4 linked regions of the Homo sapiens genome follow. The protein of the gene in region 1 interacts with the protein of each later gene in a pairwise test. Each region holds a gene or a part of one and is shown in the gene's direction. Other genes may lie near its edges.

What was found.
Region 2: the proteins of EIF2S3 (region 1) and ASIC4 interact in binary tests that used the Homo sapiens proteins (3 or more experiments, as listed by UniProt).
Region 3: the proteins of EIF2S3 (region 1) and BAHD1 interact in binary tests that used the Homo sapiens proteins (3 or more experiments, as listed by UniProt).
Region 4: the proteins of EIF2S3 (region 1) and LARP4B interact in binary tests that used the Homo sapiens proteins (3 or more experiments, as listed by UniProt).

What each region holds. Positions count from the first base shown.
Region 1 is NC_000023.11:24,071,941-24,078,974, forward strand, and holds the end of EIF2S3 (eukaryotic translation initiation factor 2 subunit 3), read left to right. Parts: intron 1-1,150; coding exon 1,151-1,323; intron 1,324-4,781; coding exon 4,782-4,845; 3' UTR 4,846-6,870; downstream 6,871-7,034. UniProt on the Homo sapiens protein: Member of the eIF2 complex that functions in the early steps of protein synthesis by forming a ternary complex with GTP and initiator tRNA.
Region 2 is NC_000002.12:219,510,083-219,517,499, forward strand, and holds the start of ASIC4 (acid-sensing ion channel 4), read left to right. Parts: upstream 1-4,642; coding exon 4,643-5,224; intron 5,225-6,613; exon of another isoform or gene 6,614-7,004; intron 7,005-7,122; exon of another isoform or gene 7,123-7,186; intron 7,187-7,417. UniProt on the Homo sapiens protein: Does not exhibit measurable stand-alone pH-gated sodium channel activity but may form pH-gated heterotrimeric sodium channels. Its activity could also depend on alternative gating mechanisms.
Region 3 is NC_000015.10:40,464,952-40,468,769, forward strand, and holds the end of BAHD1 (bromo adjacent homology domain-containing 1 protein), read left to right. Parts: intron 1-383; coding exon 384-484; intron 485-989; coding exon 990-1,179; 3' UTR 1,180-3,285; downstream 3,286-3,818.
Region 4 is NC_000010.11:858,690-865,723, reverse strand, and holds part of LARP4B (la-related protein 4B), read left to right. Parts: intron 1-1,453; coding exon 1,454-1,601; intron 1,602-1,840; coding exon 1,841-1,981; intron 1,982-7,034. UniProt on the Homo sapiens protein: Stimulates mRNA translation.

The sequences.
Region 1 (7,034 bases):
TCTCGGCTCACGGCAACCTCCACCTCCTGGGTTCAAGCAATTCTCTTGCCTCGGTTTCCCAAGTATATGGGACTACAGGCACGCACCAGCACGCCCAGCTAATTTTTGTATATTTTAGTAGAGATGGGGTTTCACTATATGTTAGCCAGGCTGGACTTGACCTCCTGACCTCAAGTGATCCGCCCGCCTTGGCCTCCCAAAGTGCTGAGATTACAGGCATGAGCCACTGCGTCCGGCCAAAATTGAGAACTATATGGCAGTTAGTTTAAGAAAGAAACTTAATAAACAGGGAAAAGTATTAGCCATTTATGACAAAGACATGATATTCCTAAAATCCATATTTTTGTTTTGTTGTTTATTTTGAGACAGAGTCTTGCTCTGTTGCCCAGGCTGGAGTGCAGTGGTGCGATCTCGACTCACAGCAGCCTCGATCTCCCAGCTCAAGCCATCCTCCCACCTTAACCTCCTGAGTTGCTGGGACTACAGGTGTGGGTCACCACGCCTGGCTAATTTTGTATTTTTTGTAGAGACGGAGTTTTGCCGCATTACCCAGGCTGATCTCCAACTCCTGGGCTTGAGCAATCTGCCCACCCCAGCCTCCGAAAATGCTGGGATTAACAGGTGTGATCCACTGCGCCCAGCTTCATGATTTTTAAAAAATGTCCCAGATTAGGTTGGCAGAGATGGGAAATTGCTGACACCTAGTGTTGGCAAAGATTGAGGAAAATAAGCTATCATGCTTTTTTTTCCCCCCACTCAGGTGATCTGCCTTCCTCGGCCTCCCAATGTGCTGGGATTACAGGCGTGTGCCACTGCGCCTGGCCCATATTAACTCTTATATAGCCATAGTCCTTCATGCTCCCCTCTTTGGGAAATTTTGTACCTCATTTGTACTAGGTAACTGCTTCAGAATTTTAAGAGGTACTCTGGTACGGTTACTACCCTATTTTTTAAAGGTAGATCTTGTGTAAATTCAGTGGGTGCCAAATAAACTATACTATATATAGTTCAAATTCCTTTACAATGAAATTTCTATAGAATTTTTTTTATGATTGACATATTTCCCAATAGTATTTGGTAAATTCTTACTTACATTTGGAAAGCATTTTCTTGATTTTGGGGTTTATTTTTCCCTAATTTATTTTTCTAGGTTCAAAAGCTGTCTAAGAATGAAGTGCTCATGGTGAACATAGGATCCCTGTCAACAGGAGGGAGAGTTAGTGCTGTCAAGGCCGATTTGGGTAAAATTGTTTTGACCAATCCAGTGTGCACAGAGGTAGGAGAAAAAATTGCCCTTAGCCGAAGAGTTGAAAAACACTGGCGGTAAGTTTGTTAGTCTTTGCCACTGTCTAATTAAAAAAAGACACAGTCTTGTACAGAAAAAAAAGCACACAATCTTCCTTGAGGACAACAGTTACTGTGGCTTTCAGTCTCAACTATTTATTTGGATGACTTTGAAAACTATACTTCGGCCGGGTGCGGTGGCTCACGCCTGTAATCCCAGCACTTTGGGAGGCCTAGGCGGGTGGATCATGAGGTCAGGAGATCAAGACCATCCTGGCTAACATGGTGAAACCCCGTCTCTACTAAAAAATACAAAAAATTAGCCGGGCGTGGTGGCGGGCGCCTGTAGTCCCAGCTACTCGGGAGGCTGAGGCAGGAGAATGGCGTGAACCTGGGAGTCGGAGCTTGCAGTGAGCCGAGATGGCGCCACTGCACTCCAGCCTGGGCGACAGAGCGAGACTCCGTCTCAGAAAAAACTACAACCTTGACTATAGTCCCATATTTTAGTCCAAATACTGTGATTGGCTTCTCTTCCTGTTAGACACAACCTATGCAAAACCAAATGAATTTGGGTTCGGTATTTCTATCGTCATTGGCTTTGGAAATCATTTCACACTTAATAGAAAAATTGTAAGAGTTTTACAGAAAACTCCTCTATAGCTTTTTCCTAGATTGACAAACACACATACAGATTTATTTACATATATAAGTTTTTTTCTGAACCATTTGAGTGTAGGCTATATATGTTATGCTTCTTGATCTCTTAATACTTCAGTGTATATTTCCCATCAAAAAAGGATATTCTTATGTAACCACTTAGAAATTTAACATTGGCAAAATACTGAAATCTACAGTGCATGTTTCAGTTTTATTACTTGTCCCAATAATGTACTTTATGTTCCTCCTGTTTAGAATCTTGAATTGCATTTAATTTCATGTCTCTTTGATCTTTAATCTGGAGCTTTTTCAGCCTTTGTCTTAATTGACATTAACAGTTCTGAAGAATACAAACTAGTTACTTTATAGAATATTCCTCAATTTGGGTTTTTCTTATCATTCGGAAGCCTAACATTAGATTCAGTTATATATTCTTAACTTAAATACACCGTGAAGTCTCCTTTTCAGGAATCACAGCTAGAGGCACATGATATCTGACTGCTCCTCTTTGTTAAGGTTAGTTTTGACTATGTAGTCAAGATGTTGTCCAGCTTCTCTGCTGTGTAGTTACTCTCTACCCTTGCAACTAATAAGCAATCTGTAGGGAGATCTTTCTAGCCAGTACAAATAGCCTGCTGATCATTGAATCCCACACCCCTGGATGTAGCATCCACTGATGATTCTTGCCTGAATCGAACTTGACTATAATGATTACAAAATCATAGCACCTCTACGGGTTGCAGTATCCTCCCTCAACTCTACCACCCCACATTTATCATTTGGCATTCTTTCTTTGCCATTATTTATTTCCCTATCTAGTTATAATATGGACTCATGGAGTCCTATTTTATTCAACATGTTATGATCCATCACTGTCTTCCTTTATTTTGATGTGCATTGTTCGACGTTTGGCCAGTGGAGGTCCTTCAGGCTGGCTCTTGTGTCCTTTTGACATGTACTCATCATTTTTTTTTCTTCTTCTTTTTTTTTTTTTTTTTTTTTGAGATGGAGTCTTGCTTTGTCGCCGGGGTAGAATGCAGTGGCATGATCTCAGCTCACTGCAACCTCTGCCTCCCAGGTTCAAGCAATTCTCCTGCCTCAGCCTCCCGAGTAGCTGGGACTACAGGCACACGCCACCACACCCGGCTAATTTTTGTATTTTCAGTAGAGACGGGGTTTCACCACGTTGGCCAGCCTGGTCTTTAACCCCCGACCTCAGGTGATCCGCCCTCCTTGGCCTCCCAAAGTGCTGGGATTACAGGCATGAGCCACCACGCCTGACCTCTTTCTTCTTTTTTTTGGAACATTTCCTTATTTTCTGGCACAAAATCTTCCAGACTCATCTTGTACCTTCTCTGTTCCAGTTTTAGAACTGGCCATTTCTCTTATAAATGAAAAGCTGAGTGTTCAGGTGTGCTCATGGCTCTTAGGGTGCTGTTGCTTCTAGGTCTTTTGAGAGCATAGAGCCAGGAAGCATACACACATTTTTGGCTCCTGACTTTTTGCTCTTTCCCAGGTTATTGAGTTTGCCCCTTGCTTTCCATTCCTCGTCACCTCATCACAGTCCATACCACCATCACTTTACACTTCACAGTTAGTGCGAAAGACTCCTAGTTTGCCTCTTAACTTGGTCAAAATTAGTCTTCTTAAAACATTTTCATCATGCTGTGTTTAATAATTTCTAGAGTCTTCTCACTACTTTTTGATATTTGGGACTTTTCTAGAAACCTGCTTCAACCCATTTAAGCTTTCCTTCTGCATTGTCTTATATAAACCCTCTAAATTAGACTGTTTTGTGCCCTAACTGTCCCCATAATTATTCACATCACCCCTACCCACTATCTACTTCCTTAATTATTTATTTTATATTTTTTAGAGGCAGGGTCTCTCTGTTGACCAGGCTGGAGTTTAGTGGCATGATCATAGCTCACTGCAGCCTCAGTGTCTAAGTAGCTAGGACTATTGGCTCACACCACCGTGATCAGCTAATTTTTTTGTTTTTTGTAGACACTTGGTCTCACTGTGTTGCCCAGCATGATCTCAAACTCCTGGCCTCAAGCCATCCTCCCACCTCAGCCTCTCAAAGTGTTGGGATTACAGACATGAGCCACCCCGCCCAGCCCTGTTTCCTTTATTAAGGCTTCCATGCTACTGTGCCCACGATGGTCTCATCACTTGTCCAGGAGATTTATCTGAATTATTGCCCTGTAATTTAGAAAGTTAAATTTTTGTTGTCTCTTAAGTAAATAATTATTTGTGGTGACTTATGCCCTTTTGATTTTACTGTCTTTTGTGATTATATTTTTTTGCTATTACAGACACACGACTTCCAGTGTATTTTGAAATAGATTTAAGCAATAAACTTTCAGTCCAGGCACGGTGGCTCATGCCTGTAAGCCCAGCACTTTGTGAGGCCGAGGTGGGCGGATCACTTGAGGCCAGGAGTTCGCAACCAGCCTGGCCGACATAGTGAAACCCCATCTCTACTAAAAATACCAAAAAATCAGCCGGGCATGGTGGCGCATGCCTGTAGTCCCAGCTACTCGGGAGGCTGAGGCATGAGAATTGTTTGAACCCAGGAGCCAGAGGTTGCAGTGAGCCGAGATCGTACCACCGCACTCCAGACTGGGTGACAGAGTGAGACTGTCTCAGAAAAAACACACAAAAGCAAGAATAAAAAAGAATCTAAGAATATAGTGTGGGCTTTCTTTATGGAGGAGCAGGCTTTGGGAACAAATTTGAATTCAGAAGATAAGCAGGTAAAATTTATCACAAGATTGTGTGGTAATGAGAGTGAAGTGGATGTAAGATTTATGATTTCTTTTATTTTCATTTTGCAGTTTAATTGGTTGGGGTCAGATAAGAAGAGGAGTGACAATCAAGCCAACAGTAGATGATGACTGAAGAATACCAGTTAAATAATACATTCGGATGGATTTGGAAGTTGGAATTCCTCTTAACAACCAAGGGGTTTATTTTCAAAGCAATATTGGGGAATTGATTTCACAGTTCGTTACCTTAGTAGGTAACGGTAAGGTTATTCTCTTTTTTTTTTTTTTTTTTTTTGGTTATGAAAACTTAGGGACTAAAATTAATATAAAAATTGGCATAATGTTGGATTGAATCTACATTTTGGCAGAAGTTAAACATTCCCACATAATGTCAAAATTATACATCATGCAGTTCTGTTTTTTTGTTTGTTTTATTTTGTTTTGTTTTTGAGTCTGGCTCTGTCACCCAGGCTGGAGTGCAGTGGCGTGATCTGCAACCTCTGCCCCCCGGGTTCAAGCGATTCTCCTGCCTCAGCCTCCCGAGTAGCTGAGATTACAGGTGCGCGCCACCACACTTGGCTAATTTTTGTATTATTAGTAGAGACGGGGTTTCAGCATGTTGGCTAGGCCGGTCTCTCCTGACCTCAGGGTGATCAGCCCACCTCGGCCTCACAAAGTGCTGGGATTACAGGCGTGAGCCACCTTGCCCAGCCCACATCATACAGTTTGAAATGAAACTTTGCCACAACCAGCCTTTGCTGTAGCACACACATATATCACTGAACCTGTTTGAAATAAAGTTTTTTTTCTTTTTCATGATTCGTCTTTGAGTACCTCCAGGCTGAAAGACTGTTGTACCAGTAAAAACTTAAAGGCACAAATTCTCCTTGAAGACCTTCTCCCTTTTATGTGGCCCCATATTTTATGTTGCTTTATCTTTGAAATTTTGCATGAAAAGGAAATGAATGGATTCGAATGAAATTGTCCTTTAGAGCATGATTACTTGTTCCCATGGACAAATATTTTTCTCCCCTTGCTCTTCCTGGCCTGAAACACGGGAAACCAGAGTCAAAAGTTATCTCCCTCTCCCTGTGATGCCTTGAGATTTTTTTCTGCGTTGTTTAATGCCTGAAATCCAAGTCTTCCTCCATGGGAAAATACTGTTATACCAAATAATTCTAGATGAGTAACAAAGATCTTTTTAGGCCTTCATTTTATGTTTTTTCTTAACTGTTATATTATGATTGTGACATAGATTATACTACTACTAATTTTTGGATGTTTCAAAAGGTCAAGAAGTAAAAGATGTTAGAAAGCAATGAGTGAGTCCTTTTGATTTTTAACTTATTCCCCATGTCCCTATACTTCGTGTGCTTTTCCTTTTTTTTTTTGAGACGGAGGCTCACTCCGTCACCTAGGCTAGAGTACAGTGGCACGATCTTGGCTCGCTGCAACCTCTGCCTCCCTGATTCAAGTGATTCTCGTGCTTCAGCCTCCCATGTAGCTGATATTACAGGCACTTGCCACCATACCCGGCTAATTTTTGTATTTTTAGTAGAGATGGGGTTTCACCATGTTGCCCAGGCTGGTCTTGAACTCCTAACCTCAGGTGATCCGCCCGCCTCTGCCTTCCAAAGTGCTGGGATTACAGGCGTGAGCCACTCTGCCCGGCTTATTTTTCTTTATGTTTTTGCTTCGTAAGAGGTTCTGTTGAGCAGTGATTTGCAACTCTTGCTGACGTTGCTGGGGAAGCTTTAAAAAAAAAAAAGATGCCCCACAGAGATTCTGATTTTAATTGTTCTGATTTAATTGGCTTGGAGTAGAATTCAGGCATTGATATCTTTAAAAACTCCCCAGTGTTGAGAAACAAATTTAGAGAGTTGAGAAGTAGGTATATTAAATTACAGAATCTTACTGAGTTTTGGTAGACTGATAATACAATTTGCTTTGCTTTTCTTAAATTTGCATTGAGATGGGATTTGAAGCATATTGTGCTCTTGTGAATGTTGAAGTTGCATTGTAGAAGTTTAGAAGCTCTGGCTATGGGTTGCCTAAATTGATGTTTTGAGGAAGCATATTAATGTTATAAACTTCGCTGACTTTGAAGGTTGTGTTGTAGCATGAGGAACACAAATAAAACAATTCTAAATCAAACTAATTTTATATCTAACATGTCCCCATGTGTTTTGTAGGTACCTTCTACCAGAAATTTTGGAATAAGACTTAAAATATAGACATTGTAATTAATCTCATGTAAGATTTGAAACCAGAATTCTATTATAATTAATTTCAGACATCCACATGAATTAGCAAATTTGTAAA
Region 2 (7,417 bases), on another chromosome or scaffold:
CCGTCGATGACCACCTCTTGGCCCCTGATGAAACCCTGCCGTCTTCACAGCCCTCACTTTTCCCACTTATCTCCTTGGCCCTAGTGTCTTGCCCTCAACCTTCTCCTCCCTGCCCCACCCCCCAATTCCCACACCGCTCCCCACATGCCCCTCGGAGCTCTAATCCCTCCTGCTGCTGTGCCGCCTTATCTGCTCCCAGCAGCTTTCGCTGCTGCAAAGCCCTCTCCCCCTCCTTCCTCAGCTCTCTCCGCTCTCTGACCAGCACCCCCTCCCGGCCAGCCTGTCTCTGCCACTCAGGCCCCCGCTGTGGCTACTGGCTGACACCGCCTCTGTACCCCATGCCCTTTGCCCTCTGCAGCCTCAGCTCCGAGGTTGTCGGCTGCACACCCACTCCCACGATGGCTGCGTCCATCCCAGCCCTCCCCCGCAGGCCCCACAGACTTTGTTAGTTTCTGGCCAGCCAGGATTTTTCATCTTCCTGCCCTCCCTTTCCTGGTGTCTTCCCCACTTCCTCCTGATGCCCCCATCCCATCTTGGACCTGGTGTCCTTATAGTCCCAGGGACCCGTTGCCTTGGCTTGGGAGTACCCGAAAGGAGATGGGAAGTGTTGGTATGAAACTCGGGAGAAGGTGCTGGGCTGGGTTGGCCCTAGAAAGATGGGGTGGGGGTGCAAGGAGTACTGGCGGACAGTGGGGGCAGGGCCTGGCGGTGGGACGCTAACCCTCTTCAGTCGCCTCAGATCACGTTCGGGACTCCCCACCCCCCTTCTCTGGGACTCTCATTAACCGCTTCTCCTGCCTCGTCCGCGGCATAAATAACCCAGATAAATCAGCCGCCGTCCGCCCCCCGCCCCTCGGCCCCTGCACAGCCCGTTTGTCACCGCTGTGTGCTCACCAGCCAGGCCTGGACCAGCCCAGCCCCAGCCCCCCCATCCTTGTCCCTTACCGCCCACATCTGTCCCACACTGGCTCATCACTTGGTCCGCACCAGGGCCAGGTGTCTGGGCTGGGGAGGGTGTCCTCTGGGTGCAGGGGGAGGGAGGCTGGGCATCTTTTGGAGAATGCTGTCTAGGAGTTCAGGGGGTCACAGCATTTTTGAATGGGGCCAGCCAGGCAAGGAATCTGGGCATCAGCTTGGGGGTTCCTGTGCTTTGAGAAAGCACCCTTGGAACCCCCCAGGTTGGATCCTGGGAGGTCTCTGGGTCTGCCTTTGGGGCACTTTGCCCAAACAAAATCTCCATGCCTCCTCCCAGGAACCTTGAGCCAGAAACCCACTGCTCTCCCTGTCTCTCCCCCCGACTGCATGCACTGCCCCCCCCCCACATTCTGCCCTGTTACCAAACCTCGTCCCAGTCCATCTACCACTCATTCTCACTGTCAGGAAGCTCATCCCCTGGGGGGCGGAGGCAGGTGAATTGGACTGGGAATAAATCTGAGGAATGGGGACAACCAGAGAGCAAAGGAACCTGGGATGAGGCTTCACATTCTGACCCCGCAACACCCAGCTCCCCGGCACTCCCAGTCCAGGGTCCCTAACAGCCCTGCCCCCTTTGCTCACACCCAGCTCAGGGCCTGGCCAGCCACACTTGTCCCTGATGCCTCACTGCAAGGGGCAGCTGGTCCCCCGGGAGTGGGTGGGGGAAGCAGGGAGGGGTGGGGGAGCTTGGGCGCAGGGCCGGGGTGGGGGTGGGGAAGAAGCTGGGCCGGGCCCCAGGGACCAGCTGGGCAATGAGCCGGGGAAGCAGCCGGGAGGCTAAATGAGGGAGATTATCACCCAACTGCAGCCGGGCAGAGAGGGAGGCAGGCAGGGAAGCGGGGAGAGGGAGGAGAGAGGGGACGGGGCCAGAGGCAAAGGGGGTATAGAGAGACAGGGAGGGGGCCAGAGGGCCTGGTGAGAAGCGGAGGGAAAGGTCAAGAGATGAGCTGGAAGTATGGGGGCACTCCCTCAGAACATCACCAGATTCCTGGAGATCTGGGAGACTGGAGGCTGGGGGCTTGGGGACAATTGGAGACAGCTGGCTGTGGGGCAGTGGTGGGGGTGTGCATGCAGCTAATTGCTGCTCCACTTCCTGGCAGCCTGGAGCTCCCCTCACAGCACCCCCCGCATGCCCCTTATACCCAGTTACCACCCGATTTCTTTCCTTATAGAGGTTGAAGGCATCCTGCCTACCCTCAGGAGGAAAGAGGATGTGATTTGTCTCATGATGGAGGCCAGTATGTTGTCGGGGAAGTGTGACCCCAAGATCTCAATAGATGGTGGGTGAATTTAGAGATATGTATGCACTCCAGGGTAGCAACGAGTGCTGCGGAGAGTTTGGGGGGCAGTTTCCCGCTTTCTTGGCAAAGCCCCAGACTAAAGTAACCTTAAAAAGCAATTAAATCACCTTTTAAAAAAAACAGTAAAGAAAAATCAATATTAGGAGAAAGGAGAAGAGAGAGAAGGATGGGGAGGAACAGTGGGGGGAGTTCTGGAAAGGTTTGGAAGTCTACCAGGGAGGGGAGAGCATAGGAGGCGGCTGCCTGGGCATGGGACAGAGAGAGGGGGCTGTCTGTGGTCACTTGGCCACTTTCAGTGCTAACTCAGCGGCTTTGTCCAATGCCAATCCCACTTTCCCTTCTGGGACACTATGTCCCAGCCAGATGCATCACCCTGCCCCAGGGGTCTTATCTTCCCAGCTTGGGGAACCAGCTGACCCAGACTCATTGGAGGCTTGTGGGGAAGCCCAGCTGTGGGGTCCCTGGGGAAGCCACTTTGCCTAAAGGCTAGGGACAACCTAAGCAGGGCACCACGCATGGTCAGGGCTGGGTGTGTGGGCAGGCTCCATGCTGGGGTGACCCTGATGGGGCCTGACCTGGCCTTGCAGCCAGGGTGGGCAAAGTGGCTTCCAGCTGCTAAGGGAGCCATCCCTAGGCCCCTCCCCTGGGGCCAGGCAGAGGCTGCGGGGCCAGGCCTGACGCAGGGGGCGGGGTGGCCGTTGGGCAGCGGGTGGACCTCGGGCTCTAATCCCCAGCAGCTGCCGTTTCCCTCAGATCGATTCCTTTCTCACTTTTTTTCTCAGCTGCTGGTTCTGCGGCTTGGATCGATGGAGCCACCTCCCCCCGCCCGTCCACGCTTCCTCTCCCTGCTGCTCATTAGCGCCCCGATTAATCAGCCCCCCTTTCCTCCCGGGGACAAGGGCTTCCTCCCCCGTGAGGGCACATGCTGTCGGATGGGGCCCCAGAGCACAAGCACTGATTCTTGCCACCCCCACCCTGGGGGCATGGATGCATCCCCTCCTGGCCAGTCAACTGAGGCTCCCACCCCCACCTATGATGATGGCCCACATGCCTGTTCCCCTCCACGAGAACACAGCAGACCCCTTAGGGCTCTCCTGCCCCACTCTGCCAGGCACCCCTCAAACCCCTTTCTTTAGGAGAGCATTCGCTCCCATTGACGCCCAGCACATCTTCCTGCTCCCTTCCACGCCCCCACTGGGGCTCTTCCTCTCCCTCCATTGCATGCCCTGTCCCCCTACATATAGAGCACCCCGGAAGCACACCTCCCCTTTGCTCCCTGGCTTGCTTACCCAACAGCCCTCCCCCGAAGCCTGGTTGTGGCAAGGGATTTGGGGAACATTTGGGGAAGCAAAGTGGCCACAGATATGCAAGCTGGCCAGGGTGCTGTCTGTCCCAGACATATGAATGACTGAGATTGGGGTTGGGGGCAAAATGAGGGTGAGGGCAGCCAGCCTCCCAGAGGGGGCAGGGGCATGGTGGGTGTTGAAGTCTGGAGCAAAGCTCCAGGGAAGCTGAGAATCTTGAAGTCACAGTTGTCCCCTGGTCTGTCTAGCCTGCCCTCCTCTGCCCCCCTCCCTCCGTCATTCAAACAAGTGGCTCTCTCAAGGAGTTTCTGGAAGCTGCTGTGAGTCGGGTAGTGGGATCAGGTGGTGGCTGGGTGCTGGAGTCAGGAGTCTCAGAGGCCAGGAGGTGGGGGGATAGAGTTGGCTGACCCTTCATGGGGTGTGGGCCAGGAAAGTGGCAAAGAATGAGCTGAGGACCCTGGGCACGGCACCCTTCCCTGGGTGGCCAGGAAGTGGGGAGATCTGGGGACCCAGTGAGCGGCTAGGGTGCAGCAGGAGTTTGGGGGATAGCCCCAGTCTTGGGATCTCTGTCCTGGGCTGGGGACTGCCCCCTCCCCTGGCCTGGCTCCTGACGCCCGTGCTGCCGGTGAAACGCTGTTGACATGTCCTGAATTATTAAGCGTGGGGAGGGCTCCGGAGCACATGCTGAGCGGAGCGGCTGGGGCTGCGCGGCGTGGCGGAGCAGCGCTCGCTCCCTCGCTCACTCGCTCGCTCGCAGGGACACACGCAGGGGCTGACAGCTGTGCTGGTGCTGATAAGGGAAGCCACAAGGAGACGATCGAGGAGAGAGACAAGCGGCAGCAGAGGCAGCAGCGGCAGAGGCAGCACCAGGGCTGCGGAGCTGCTGGGAGTGGGAGTGACTCCCCCACCTCGGGCCCCCACCCTGTCCCTGTCCTCTTCCCGCTTGCCCTGAGTTTAGAAGAGCAGCCGCTGCCACCACTGCCACTCGGGAGGGCACCAGGGCTGCTGGCTAGGGAGGGACAGGGCAGGGAGGCTCTGGCCAGTCCCAGCAGCCGGGGACAGATGCCGATCGAGATTGTGTGCAAAATCAAATTTGCTGAGGAGGATGCGAAACCCAAGGAGAAGGAGGCAGGGGATGAGCAGAGCCTCCTCGGGGCTGTTGCCCCTGGAGCAGCCCCCCGAGACCTGGCCACCTTTGCCAGCACCAGCACCCTGCATGGACTGGGCCGGGCCTGTGGCCCAGGCCCCCACGGACTGCGCAGAACCCTGTGGGCACTGGCCCTACTCACCTCGCTGGCTGCCTTCCTGTACCAGGCGGCTGGCCTGGCCCGGGGCTACCTGACCCGGCCTCACCTGGTGGCAATGGACCCCGCTGCCCCAGCCCCAGTGGCGGGCTTCCCGGCTGTCACCCTCTGCAATATCAACCGCTTCCGGCATTCGGCACTCAGCGATGCCGACATCTTCCACCTGGCCAATCTGACAGGGCTGCCCCCCAAAGACCGGGATGGGCACCGTGCGGCTGGCCTGCGCTACCCAGAGCCTGACATGGTAGACATCCTCAACCGCACTGGCCACCAGCTCGCCGACATGCTTAAGAGCTGCAACTTCAGTGGGCATCACTGCTCCGCCAGCAACTTCTCTGTGGTGAGTTCTGCCAGCTGGGCTGCCTGGCCTTGGATGGCCGGAGGCTGGGGAGTGGGGAGGAGTGGTGGCAGTGGTGTACAGGGGCATCCTCAACAGGGCTTCCCTTCATTCCACCACCAGAGGCTGGCCTCGTGTTTCCCCAAGCCTGGCGTCTCCCTCTGGCTTCCCAGCCATGGAGCAGTGGCCGCTCATAGGGGCTTACCCTGGGGCGCCTGCTGCTCCTCTTCTTGGTTTTGCTGCTGCTGCAGTGCCCAGGTCTGGGAGTTGGGGTGGGGGTTCCTAGGCATGGGCCCAGGTGTCCTGGAGCTGGCTGGCTTGCAGGGAACGCACGCACCATCCCAAGGCCAGACCAACTGACTCTCACTTTTCTCTTGCTCCCTTTTTCTTCTGAGGCTACTGGATTCTTCCCACCAAACGAAGGAGATAGGGAGGGGAGGTTTGGGGGGCTCCATCTAGGGAAGGACCCCGGGTGGCCTCCTGGGGAGCTGGCCTGGTGGGCAGGCTGGAGAGACCCGGTCTTCAGGACACTGGGTGCCAGTGTCTCTTCTGGATCTCTGTGTGTCTCTCACATGCCTGCCTCACAGACTCCCTCACACATCCCTCTTTCATTCTGCCCTCCAGCCCTCCTGGGGTCCAGTCCCCCTCTGTCTCCTGTTCTAGCGGCTCCCATGCCCAGCTCTGGCTCTTACACTGGGAATCACTGGTTCACTCTTATGTGCATAACTCACCCTCACTGCTGCCCCAGCACGGGTGCATGCACACATGCACACGCACACACGCACACGCACTGCTGGGGGACACAGTTTCCTGCACACTCCCTCTCTCACTCACTGTCCCTGTCACTACACTCACATGCACACCTGCACACCCACACCCAGAGAGCTACTCATCTCCATGTCTAGCTCCCAGCTCTCGCTTAGCTGCCAAGGACAGGGTCCCACTGTGGATGCCATCCCTTCTCATGACACCCCCACCCCCATCTATCCCAACCGCTGCTCCCCATTTGGAGACTGCTGGCGCCATCTGTCACCTACGTGTGAGCACAAACACAAGCACCCTCTCCGGGAGAGGGGTGTGAGCTTGGGCTGCTCTGCCATGCACGCCTCCCACAGTCAGGTATGTGAGGGGGTGGGCGTGTCTTGTACACTGCCTGTCTGTCAGGGCTCCATTCACCCATAGTCACAGGGTATCTAGTATTCATGGCGCTCGAGATGCTTGTCCCTAGTCCACAGTTTGCTCCCAGCATTGTGTGTGCATGCGTGTATGTTTCATCCTCGTTGCCACTGCCCAGTGCATATGCAAATGTTTGGCGTCAACATGGTGCCCACTCCAGCCCAGCCTCCAGCAGCCAGCCCCAGTGATAGGGACCCCCGCCAGGTTCTCACTCACCCGCTGCCTCAGGATCACCAGGAAACATGCTCCAGCCAACGAGGTTCCTGGCCCCCACCATGCCTGCAGTGTCTGGGGCCTCCCGCCATTGGGCAGGGGAGTTAGGTAGAAATAGAGGGACAGGAGCAGGAGCATTGTGCAGGGAGAAGAGTCGGGGGCATTGGCCTGTTGTCCGGCTGTACACCCCCTTTCCTAGGGAAAAGCACTGCTCCCCAAAGCAAGGGTTGGTAGAGTCCCCGAGGAGGAGGTGGGATATGGAGGGTGAGTGTGGCCTTTGGGATCCATAGGGCTCTGCTGTCCTCAATCCTCACCACTCCGTATTGGGAGCTGGGCAGAGCTCAGTCTTAGCAGGTGCTGTTGGGACAGAAATCAATGGGATCTTTGTGTCCCCGAGCGGGAGTTGGGGGTGGGCAGGAAAGGGGAAGGGTGATGAGACCTCAGTGAGAGGAAAGGAGAGGAAGAGCTGGAGGGGGTGAGGAAGTAAGGGGAGGGAGGCAGAGGGTTCTGCTTGGTCTCCAGGCTAGGAGGCGGTGCCTGGAGGATACAGGAACGGGGATCCTCTGATCAAGGCTGGTGAGTCCCCGGAATCCTGGGGATGGCCTGGAGGAGTGTGGGTGGATTTCCCACAGGCCCTCTGGTACCCTGGGGCTGGAGAAAGGAGGATGGTAGAAGTCCGTGGGCTGAGGTTCTGGCCCTGGTGCAGGACAGTGGGGGTAGAGGGCATAGCTAGCATTGGGGGACAGGAATTCCCCTTTGGGATTTCCATTTCCCCTGTCTCCAGCCCAGCCTCCTACTCTTCTGCAC
Region 3 (3,818 bases), on another chromosome or scaffold:
TGTGCTAAAAGAGGTGACTGCCATCTGTGTGTGCCCTGGGCTCACCTTTTATTTCACTTTCCCTTGCAGGGACTTTCCATCTAACTGGAAAGATGAAGAACATTTCCCCTCTCCTACGCTAGGCAGGGCTGGGGTTTGGGAGGTCAGTGACAATCAGGGGCTAGAGCAGATACCTGGCTATTCTGGAGAAGGGGGGGACCTAGAAGGGACTCAGGAGGAATGCCTGGAGGCAGTAGGTGAGGCATACTTAGGCTGAATTTCCAGGGAAGCTTGCTGGAGTCATCTCAGGTCAGCAGGCCCAGCAGAGGGGTTAATGTCTGCCTTGCTCTGGGAATGAGGTGCTTTCCAGCCCTGGTAACAACCTCCACCTGTCTCCCTTTGAGCCCTTGCAGAATGAAGTGTTTGCATCGCGACATCAGGACCAGAACAGTGTGGCCTGCATTGAGGAGAAGTGCTATGTGCTGACTTTTGCCGAGTACTGCAGGTAGGTGGTTCCCTGCACCCTCTGGCTGGCCTCTTCCCTCAGGCTCCCCAGGCATATTTGGGGCTGCTTGGAATTCCCCGAGAGGATCTCATTCTGCTCTCTACCTGATCTTACTCACTGAGCCTAATCTCCCAGAACTTACTTCCCTATTGCTTGCCTCTACCATCTGATATTTTTTGGAAGAAAGAAGAAAAATTGTGTTGCCACACTGAGGTAGAATGGTTGGAGCAGAGTTGGGGGGTAACATTACTGCTCTTGGAAAAAATTTAGGCGAATTGGCAGGCAAATGGAGAGAGGCCCTGGCAAGTGTGGTTCTCCAGTGACAGAGAAGATAGCCTGGTGGTTGGCAGAGCAGACATCATCCCTGGGATGGGTGGAGACAGTACCACCCCTTGGGGAGCTAGGATAGCCTAGCTCTCTGGGTCGGGTAGGGTAGGGTAGGGAAGGAATTGGTCTTCCTGCAAAAGTGGCTGGAGTAAAGACAGTGAATGGTATCTCTCTACAGGTTCTGTGCCATGGCCAAGCGCCGAGGTGAAGGCCTCCCCAGCCGAAAGACAGCACTGGTTCCCCCCTCTGCAGACTATTCCACCCCACCCCACCGCACAGTGCCAGAGGACACGGACCCTGAGCTGGTGTTCCTTTGCCGCCATGTCTATGACTTCCGCCACGGGCGCATCCTTAAGAACCCCCAGTAGCCTCCTCATGCCCATGCTGGGGCTACCCATGGGCAAGTGGGGCTCGGGGTAGGGGGCACTGCTTGAAGCACAGCACTTGGTTAGGGGGCCACAGAGGCCTAAGTTTGCTGGCCTGTGGTTTTCTTGGGGGGGAGGGCAGGGGCCCCTGTGGGTTCTGGGCTCCAGGGGAGGGAGCTGGGGAGGCCAGGGTATAAGAAAAGCATCAGAACTCTCAGCTTGGCCCAAGGTACCTTCTGTGGTTCCCCTGGGTGGAGATTTCCGAAAAGTAGTCTTCTCTGAGGCTGGGCCAAGCCTGAGGGAAATGGGGCCCTAGGAGGGTGGGGGCGGGAAGGAGGGGCAAGGTCTTTCAGGAACCAGACCCAACAGGCCCTTCTGTAGCCTCCCCCTTGCCCTCAAAGGGGGAGTGGGGGCCAGCTTTACCTCACCCACTGTGACCCGCCGCTTCCCCTTCAGCCTGGGACCAGGCTTTCCTAGATCCCAGCACAGCTCTGAGCTTGTTCCTTTGAGGCATAGAGAGCCAGAGTCTGGCTTCCAGAGCATTGACTTCCTCTTCCTAGACTTGAGGCCTTTTCTCTGGCTTTCCTCCTTTGCCCTGCAGTAGCAACTGGTGCTGGGACAAGTTGACCCACCTCTCACAGTCATGGGTGTGGCCCACTTGTGGGAGTCTCCTGTCCACCTCCCAGAGACGGCCACCCAGCGGGTCTGGCTTCCCAGAAAGTTAACTGATGATTGTGGGGTTTGTCATATCTGGGAGGGAAGATGGGTGCTGGGAGAGGGTTGGGGGCAGGGGGCAAGGAAAATTGCTACCTGATTTGTTGAAGATTTTTCCTCTTGCCTTACACATGGAGGTTCCAGGAAACCTCTTGCAGAACTTCACACGTGATTCTTCAAGCCACACCCACCTGAAATCAAACCAAAGGAGTGCTGTGGCTCCCCTTGCCCTGCCACCCTTTCCCTAGTCTTTTGTAGATTGCACTAATTTACATCCTAGCAAGAATCAACACTGTATCAGTCCACGGACCTGCTGAGCTGCAGCCACTTGCTCTAGGAGCTAAGGACTTGCATTTTCAGTTTGTTCCTGTTGCCCAGAGGCCCTGTTCTCACCTCATGCTGCTCCCCAGAGTAGACTAACAGGCTCAGTCCCCTGTTGTCCTTGTGGAGACTAGGCCTTGGCCCTGGCCCTGAGACTCTGTGAGGGGGCTGGAGCAGCCTGGTTATTTCCTATCTGTACCAAAGAGGAGTATGGTGGGAGAGGGAGTGGAGTGCAGTGTGGCTTGGGCCTGGTGCTGGGAACCTGCTAGCTGAGCACTTCCACAAGGGCATACCCCTGGGGGCAGGGGCTGGGGCTGAGAACTGCAGCCCTGGGTCTTCCCTTAGGGAGGAAGGGCAGATGAACCCAGCAGGCTTAGGAGGTGGCACTGGGTGAGGACAGCTGGGCAGGGGCTGCAGAGGGAGGTGGAAATGAACCCTGAGGGCTCCCCCAACTTGCCATGCCCTGTCCCTTAGTAGATGAGTTGCTCCTGATTGGTCATTGGGTTTGGGTGAGGCCTGGAGGCTTCAGAGGTGAATTTATGCTTGGGAAGCCTGATCCCAAACCTGAAGGGAAGGGACTTGGATCTCCTTATATTGAATAAGCTGTTTGGAGGAAGGTGTCTGTCTGGGAGGATGGGGCAGTAAATGAGGTTGGCAGAGTGGCAGTGGGGGCTCTGCAGAGCCAGCCTTGGAGCCTGCTCATTCTGGGCCCTTGCTGCCAAGGAGCCCAGCCTCACCTAGCAGGAAAGGAGATGAAGGCCCTCCTCCCAGGAGGTAGGGTCTTGGCTGCCCCGAACTTAAATGCTTTTGAAATCTCTTAGATGTGGAAATATTTTTTCGAACCTGAAAATGCAGCTGGTAGAATTTCAATGGAAGCATAATCCATGTAAAATATATTTTAGTTGATATTTTGTAAAATGCACTTTTTGTGTGTGTTGATCCTGGTTTCCCAGATCTGTATTTCAGTGTTTACAAGGGAGGAAGGACCTTTCCTCACCTCCCTTTTGACAGAGATTAGAAGTACTTCTTTAAGAAAAAAATAAATTTGAGAAATTGTATTGATTTAGAAAAGGATCGTTTCCTGTGTGTCCTGTCATCTTTTGGTGTGTGGGTGTGGAGAGACCCACTATTCTTATTTCAGAGGTCCCTCTTAACCCCTGTGGCATGGATGCTCACCAAGGCCAATGAGCAAAGAGGGCAGGGAAGCAGAGGGAAAAGAGAGTGAGGGAAGGAGACAGAGGGACTGGGAACTTGGAGTTGACTTCTTGATTTCATGGTGGCCACAGCTGCCTGCTTAGGTCTGTGTGAAATACTTCAGTTGCCAGCCCTCACCTGACCAGTGACCTGGAAATTGGTCCCCAAGTAGGTACATGGCAAAGATACCTTCTTATCACTGGCCTCATGCAGTGGCTCCTGCCTGTAATCCCAGTGCTTTGGGAGGCAGAGGCAGGAGGGTTACTTGAGCCTAGGAGTTTAAGACCAGCCTAGGCAACATAGACCATGTCTCTCGAAAAATTTAAAAATTAGCCCGGCATGTCAGTGCATGCCTATAGTCTCAGTCAGGAGGCTAAGGTAGGAGGATTGCTTGATCCCAAGAGCACGAGGCT
Region 4 (7,034 bases), on another chromosome or scaffold:
CTTTTCTTTAGGCTTTGGGGAGTGCTTGTGTAAGCATAAGAAAGGCTTGTATCAGAAAAATCAGGGGAGTAGGGAGTATCCACATGGTGGGGGACTTTTGTGGGTTTATTCGCTGTGTCAGGAAGGACCACCAGTCCCCAGTCTCTGGGCAGGATGTTCTGGACAGACGGACGGGAAGAGCAAAAGTGCCAGTGTGCCCAGAGACAGCAAGGAGGTCAGTGTGCCTGGAAATGGACAAGGCCAGGGAGCAGTGAGCACAGGAGGGCGCTGTGGCTGCAGTGGGAACTTCGTCTTTTACTCCAAATGAGCCAAGCTGATGCGGGAGGGTTTTGAGTAGAGGACTGCCCTGTGGGACTAACTGAGCATGCGTGACTGTCATGATGGCCGATGAGCTTGGTATGTGCCAGGCATCATGTTGTTGTGCTGTCTTCCAGGTGAGGTTTAGCCCATGTTCCACAGCTGTCCATGGCAGCTTTGGCCTCAGCCCCAGTGATCTGAGAGTCCGTTGTCCAGAACACTGGACTAGCAGCTTCATGGTCACCTGTGGATTTTCTTTCAAGGTGATACTGAAGCTCTATTGGGAATGGGAACAGGTAGTTCTGTGAAAAATATGAGATATTTTATCTTCTTCCTCAAAGGATGCCTGAGCTTTCTTATCCTGTAGTATCCCTGACAGACCTGTTAGAACACCTTCATTCTTAGGAGCAATTTTCATCTTCTACACCTTTTGTTTATGTGACTTTTTGAAGCTTTCTTTCTTTCTTTTGTTTTAGAGATGGAGTTCTGCTCTGTCCCCCAGGTTGGGTGCAGTGGTGCGATCTCAGCTTACTGCAACCCCCGCCTCCTGGGTTCAAGTGATTCTCCTGCCTCAGCCTCTCGAGTAGCTGGGATTACAGGCATGCGCCACCACGCCCGGCTAATTTTGTATTTTTAGTAGAGACAAGGTTTCTCCATGTTGGCCAAGCTGGTCATGAACTCCTGGCCTCAGGTGATCCGCCCGCCTTGGCCTCCCAAAGTGCTGGGATTACAGGTGTGAGCCGCCGCGCCCTGCTGACTTGTTTAAGCTTTCTAATTAGAATTTTATTCATCTGCCTTGTATTCAAGTTTGTAAAACCCTGAATTGTGATTTTATTAGGAGTCTAGGAAGTCACCAGCTATTCCTCAGGTATAGTTTGTGAAACACTGAATCTTTTGGTGGCAGGCGTGTCCTTCCCCATCTCTGCAAGCCTTGGTCTTGGGAGGAGGAACTTAAAACTTGGGGGGAATTTAATGGAATTCTGACTGCTTTTTTTTTTTTTTTAATTTTGAACCTGATTTCATTCCAAAGGTGTGTATAAATACATAGGCTGAGCCTTTGGAGCCTATATCTGATGTCTCTTAACTCTGCATTAATGAGTAAAATTGTATTTGGTTGACATTTGGATACAAATGTCTATCTTACATTTCTTCCTAGGTACCAGCAACTAAGGTTTCAGAGCTGAACCCTAATGCAGAAGTGTGGGGGGCTCCTGTGTTACATCTGGAAGCAAGCAGTGCTGCTGACGGTGTGAGTGCTGCATGGGAGGAGGTGGCTGGCCACCACGCAGACCGTGGCCCGCAGGGTAAGTTGAGCATGGCCGTGGTGTGCAGCCCCCTGCTTTCAGGCCTGTGCTTTTGTTGCCATTTTAATCTGTCTTTAAGATGTTGTTCATTCATAACTGTGTCATGGTATGTGGCAGTGCTTGAGAGCCCAGAGGTCTTTTACAGTCTAAAGAAGTTGAGTCACTGCAAGTGTAAGCTTTGTTTTAAGAGAAAGTTATGCTTCTAACCCTGCCTTTTTGGGGTAAACTCCTAATTGTAGGATCGGATGCCAATGGTGATGGTGACCAGGGCCATGAGAATGCCGCATTGCCAGACCCGCAGGAGTCGGACCCAGCAGACATGAACGCTCTCGCTCTGGGTCCCTCAGAATATGACTCTCTGCCTGAAAATAGCGAGACAGGTAAACATATCTTATGGGTGCATTTTCCCAGGGAATATGGGCTGCTTTATTTATTTTTTTTATTTAGAGTATTAACATTCTCTACACAATGGGTCTTTCTTTGCCTGCTTTTAATTCTACTTTAAACTCACCCTTATGTGGATGCAGAGAAGATGAGAGGCCCTGGTTAGGGAGGTGCCATGGAGGAATGTAAGGTCTCAAAAGATGAAACCTGGGCCGGGCGCGGGGGCTCACGCCTGTCATCCCAGCACTTCGGGAGGCCGAGGCGGGCAGATCACGAGGTCAGGAGATCAAGACCATCCTGGCTAACACGGTAAAACCCCGTCTCTACTAAAAAAAAAATACAAAAAAAATCAGCTGGGCGTGGTGGCGGGCGCCTGTAGTCCCAGCTATTTGGGAGGCTGAGGCAGGAGAATGGCGTGAACCTGGAGGCGGAGCTTGCAGTGAGCCGAGATCGTGCCACTGCACTCCAGCCTGGGCGACAGAGCGAGACTCCATCTCAAAAAAAAAAAAAAATGAAACCTATTTAGTAGTGCGAAGTGTCAGTAAAAGTGCAGAGGTGGAACGTTAATGTTGGATTTGAGAGTAAGACAGTTTGGGTAAAGGGAGGGGGATAGAGAGGGAATGCTGTGGTATTGTAGGTAGGGGCAATTGAGGCCCCATTTGCAAGTCTTAGAAGCCATTCACATTTGAACTTCTTTCCTGTTGATGAGGAAATGAGTGACATGAAGAAAATAAGTTGTTTGGGGAAGGTAAATTTTGCAGGAGTGTGAAAGAATGGCTTGGAGGAAAGCAAATGTAAGACCATCTGGATAGAATCTCTGTTGTTCTCATGTAGGGTTGTAAGTACCTTAGTATGTAGTAGTGGCTAAAAAACGGAAAGGAAGAGAGTAGGTGGGAAAGGAGATGTTCAGGCCCAGTTATGGAGTGTACCACACGTTACTGGAAATGCAGGAACTTTTTCATGTTTTCATTTTTTTTTTTTGAGACGGAGTCTCACTGTCACCCAGCCTGGAGTGCAGTGGTGAGACATCGGCTCACTGCAAGCTCCGCCTACTGAGTTCATGCCATTCTCCTACCTCAGCCTCCTGAGTAGCTGGGACTACAGGCGTCTGCCACCACGCCCGGCTAATTTTTTGTATTTTTAGTAAAGATGGGGTTTCACCATGTTAGCCAGGATGGTCTCGATCTCCTGACCTTGTGATCTGCCCGCCTCGGCCTCTCATGTTTTCATTTTTATTACCACAATTGTTCTTAACCAGTCCCTGTCCCCTCCCCCACCCCACTTGCCATGGGCTTTTCGTTATCCCAGTGACCAGGGAATGCACTGGGCAGGGCTGGAGAGGCCAGACCTCGATGCTGTAAGGCACAGCCATGCAGAATGACTTCATTGGCTTAAGACTGTCAAAGTCAGAAACTGTCACTTAAGAGGGAAAATGTGTAGATGTTCTGTGACGGTTGTTTTTTTTTTTTTTTTTTTTTTTTTAACTTCAGTGGAGCTTATTGCTTTAAATAATTGTTTGGTAAAATGAATCAAGTATTTATAAAGGTACAAAAATTAAGCCATGCTTGTTTCTTGTAAATATAAATTTGCCATCTTGAATTTGCATAAAGTGAATTTCCCGTCTACATGAGCAGTTTTCTAAATCTGAGGAAGGCCAGTATTCAGCAATGTAATTTGATTACATCCCCCTTGTTAATTCACCAGTAACTGGTTAGTGACTTGGGAATGGCAGAACATTGGGATAAACTGGAGTCATGTTAGAGTCCATTGAATTTAAGATGGCAAAGGAAAGGAATGCTCATCATTAAAACAGATTTTTACAAAAGATAAAAAGGCATTATACATTGAGGGAGTGAGAATCCTAATGGTAGGAAGTAAAATGGTTCAAAATAAACAATTTAAGTTTCAGACTAAATTGAAATGACCTAATCTTGAACTGGGGTCAGAATTTATACAGAAGATGGAAGATAGATAGGAGGTAGACAGATGTGAAGATCTGTCTTGAGGATGGAAGATGGGTAATGTTATCAACAGTGAAATAACTTGTGAAAATCTGCCTGAAGACAGGAGATAGATAACGTTACCAAAAGTGAAATAACATGTTAAAATCTATCTGAAGATAGAAGATAGGGAACATTATCAAAAGTGAAATAACAACATGTTAAAGTATATTCTGGAAAGTTTAATTTCAAAAGGTGATTCTTTTTAAAAGGGGTATTTAAAACTATTTTCAAAAAGAAGAAAAAGAATACCTTCTGCTTTGTCTTCCTCCTTCATCTGCCTCCACCTACTCCCTCTCTCACTCCTATAAAGCATTAGTGAGGCATAACCGATGTACAATAAACATCATATACTTCAGGTATACCCCAGATTTTCTGTAGCTTACAGACAATTGAGGAAATAATACATTATTAATGTGTTGCCTCTTTCATTCCTCTTTGCTTTGTCCACCCAGTTTGATAAGTTGTTCTGTACCTGTAAAATCCTCAGCACAATCAAGATCACGAACATCCCAAACACCAGGAAGAGCTTCCTGTGCCCTCTCCTTTCTCCGTGGAACCGGTGGTCTGTTTTTTTCTTTTTGAGATGGAGTCTTGCTGTGTCACCCAGGCTGGAATGCAGTGGCGTGATCTCGGCTCACTGCAACCTCCGCCTCCCGGGTTCACGCCATTCTCCTGCCTCAGCCTCCCCAGTAGCTGGGACTACAGGTGCCCACCACCACACCCGGCTAATTGTTTGTATTTTTAGTAGAGACGGGGTTTCACCGTGTTAGCCAGGATGGTCTTGATCTCCCGACCTCATGACCCGCCCACCTCGGCCTCCCAAAGTGCTGGGATTACAGGTGTAAGCCTTCATGCCCGGCCCAGTGGTCTGTTTTCTATCACTATATGTCAGTTTGCGTTTCGTAGATTTTTTTTCTCTTTAAAAAAAAAGATGGAACTCCTGGGCCCAAGAGATGTGCATCAGCCCCACAAGTTGCTGGACAACAGACGTGTGATAGAATTTGACAGTGTGTACTGTTTTTGTCTGACTTAGGTTACTATTTTTGAGACTGATTCATGTTGTAACATGAATTAATCATTTATTTTTATTGCTGAGAAGTATTCATGATATGGATAGATCACAGTTTGTTTTTCTATTCCCCTATTCATGGATTTTGGGATTGTTTTCAAAATGTGGCTTTGCCAATAAAAAGTGTTCATAAAAGTGAACATTTGTCAGCAAGATTTCATATAAACATATGTTTTCATTTCTCTTGGGTAAAATACCTAGGAATGGAGTAGCTGGATCATCTGGTAGGCATGTTTATCCTTTTAAGAAATGGTAAGGCAGTTTTCCAAAGTGGTGGTACCATTTTCTATTCTCAACCAGTGGTGGATTAAAGCACCACATCCTTATGACCCTTATGACCTCAGGGTCAGTCTTTAATTTTAGCTGCTGTAAAAGGGAGACAGTAGAATCTTACTGTGGCTTTAATTTATGTTTCCCTAAGGACTAATGCTATCAAACATCCTTTTTAAAAAAAAGACTGTTTTTTTTAGAGCACTTTCAGGTTCACAGCGAGTTTTAGTGGAAGGTATAGAGATCTCCCATATACTCCCCTCCCCCCCACCCCCACACATGCATGGCCTTCTTCACTATTCACACTCCCTCACCAGAGGGTGCCTTTGTATAATTGATGATCCTATATTGGCACATCATTATTACCTGGAGTCTACAGTTTACATGAGGGCTCACTCTTGGTGTTGTACGTTCTGTGGGTTTGGAGAAATGTATAATGACATGTACCCTCCATTGTAGCATCAGAGAGAGTAGTTTCCCTGCCCTAAAAGTCATCTGTGTTCTGCCTACTCACCCCTCCCTCCCCCCAACCCCTAGCATCCATTGGTTTTTTCACTGTCTCCATAGTTTTACCTTTTCCAGAATGTCATAGGGTTGGAATCCTGCAGGATGTAGCCTTCTTAGATAGGTTTCTTTCATTTAGTAACGTACATTTAAGCTTCCTCCATGTCTTCAAGGCTTGATAACTCATTTCTTTTTAGCACTGAATAACATTCCATTGTCTGGACATACTACAAATTACTTAGTCATTCACCTACTGAAGGACATCTTGGTTGTTTCCAGGTTTTGGCAATTACAAATAAAGATGCTGTTAGCATTCATGTGCAGGTTTTTGTACGGAAGGAAGTTTTTAACTCCTTTGGGTAAATACCCAGGAGTGTGATTGCTGGATCATAAGGTCAGAGTATGTTTAGTTCTGTAGAAAGCTGCTGAACTGCCTTCCAGAAGTAGAATTTCTGGATCATATGGTAATTCTTATGTTTAACTTTTTTTGGTGGAATCACCATACAGTTTTCCATACAGGCCATAGTATTTTACATTCCCACCATCAGTGTACAAGGGTTCCAGTTTTATTAAATCCTTGCCAATACTTGTTATTTTCTGATTTTTTTTTTTTTTTGAAATGGAATAATTCTGTTGCCCAGGCTGGAGTGCACTGGAGCAATCTCAGCTCACTACAACGTCCACCTCCCGGGTTCAAGCAATTCTCCTGCCTCAGCCTCCCAAGTAGCCTAGATTACAGGTGTGAGCCACCACGCCCAGCTAAATTTTGTATTTTTAGTAGATACGGGGTTTCACCATGTTGGCCAGTCTGGTCTCAAACTCCTGACCTCTGCCCATCTCAGCCTCCCAAAGTGCTGGGATTACAGGCGTGAGCCACCACACCCAGCTAACTTTTGTATTTTTTGTAGAGACAGGGTTCAACCATGTTGTCCAGGCTGGGTTCGAACTCCTGACCTCAGGTGATCTGTCTGCCTCGGCCTGCCAAAGTGCTGTGATTACAGGCATGAGCCACTGCGCCCAGCCTATTTTCTGATTTTTTTGATAGTAGTCATTCTAGTGGGTATATCTTTGTAGTTTTGGCTTGCATTTCCCTAATGGTTAGTGATGCCAAGCACCCTTTTTGTTCTTATTGGCCATTTGTCTTCTTTGGATAAATGTCTATTCAAATCCTTTGCCTATTTTTGAATCAGGTTTTTGTTAATG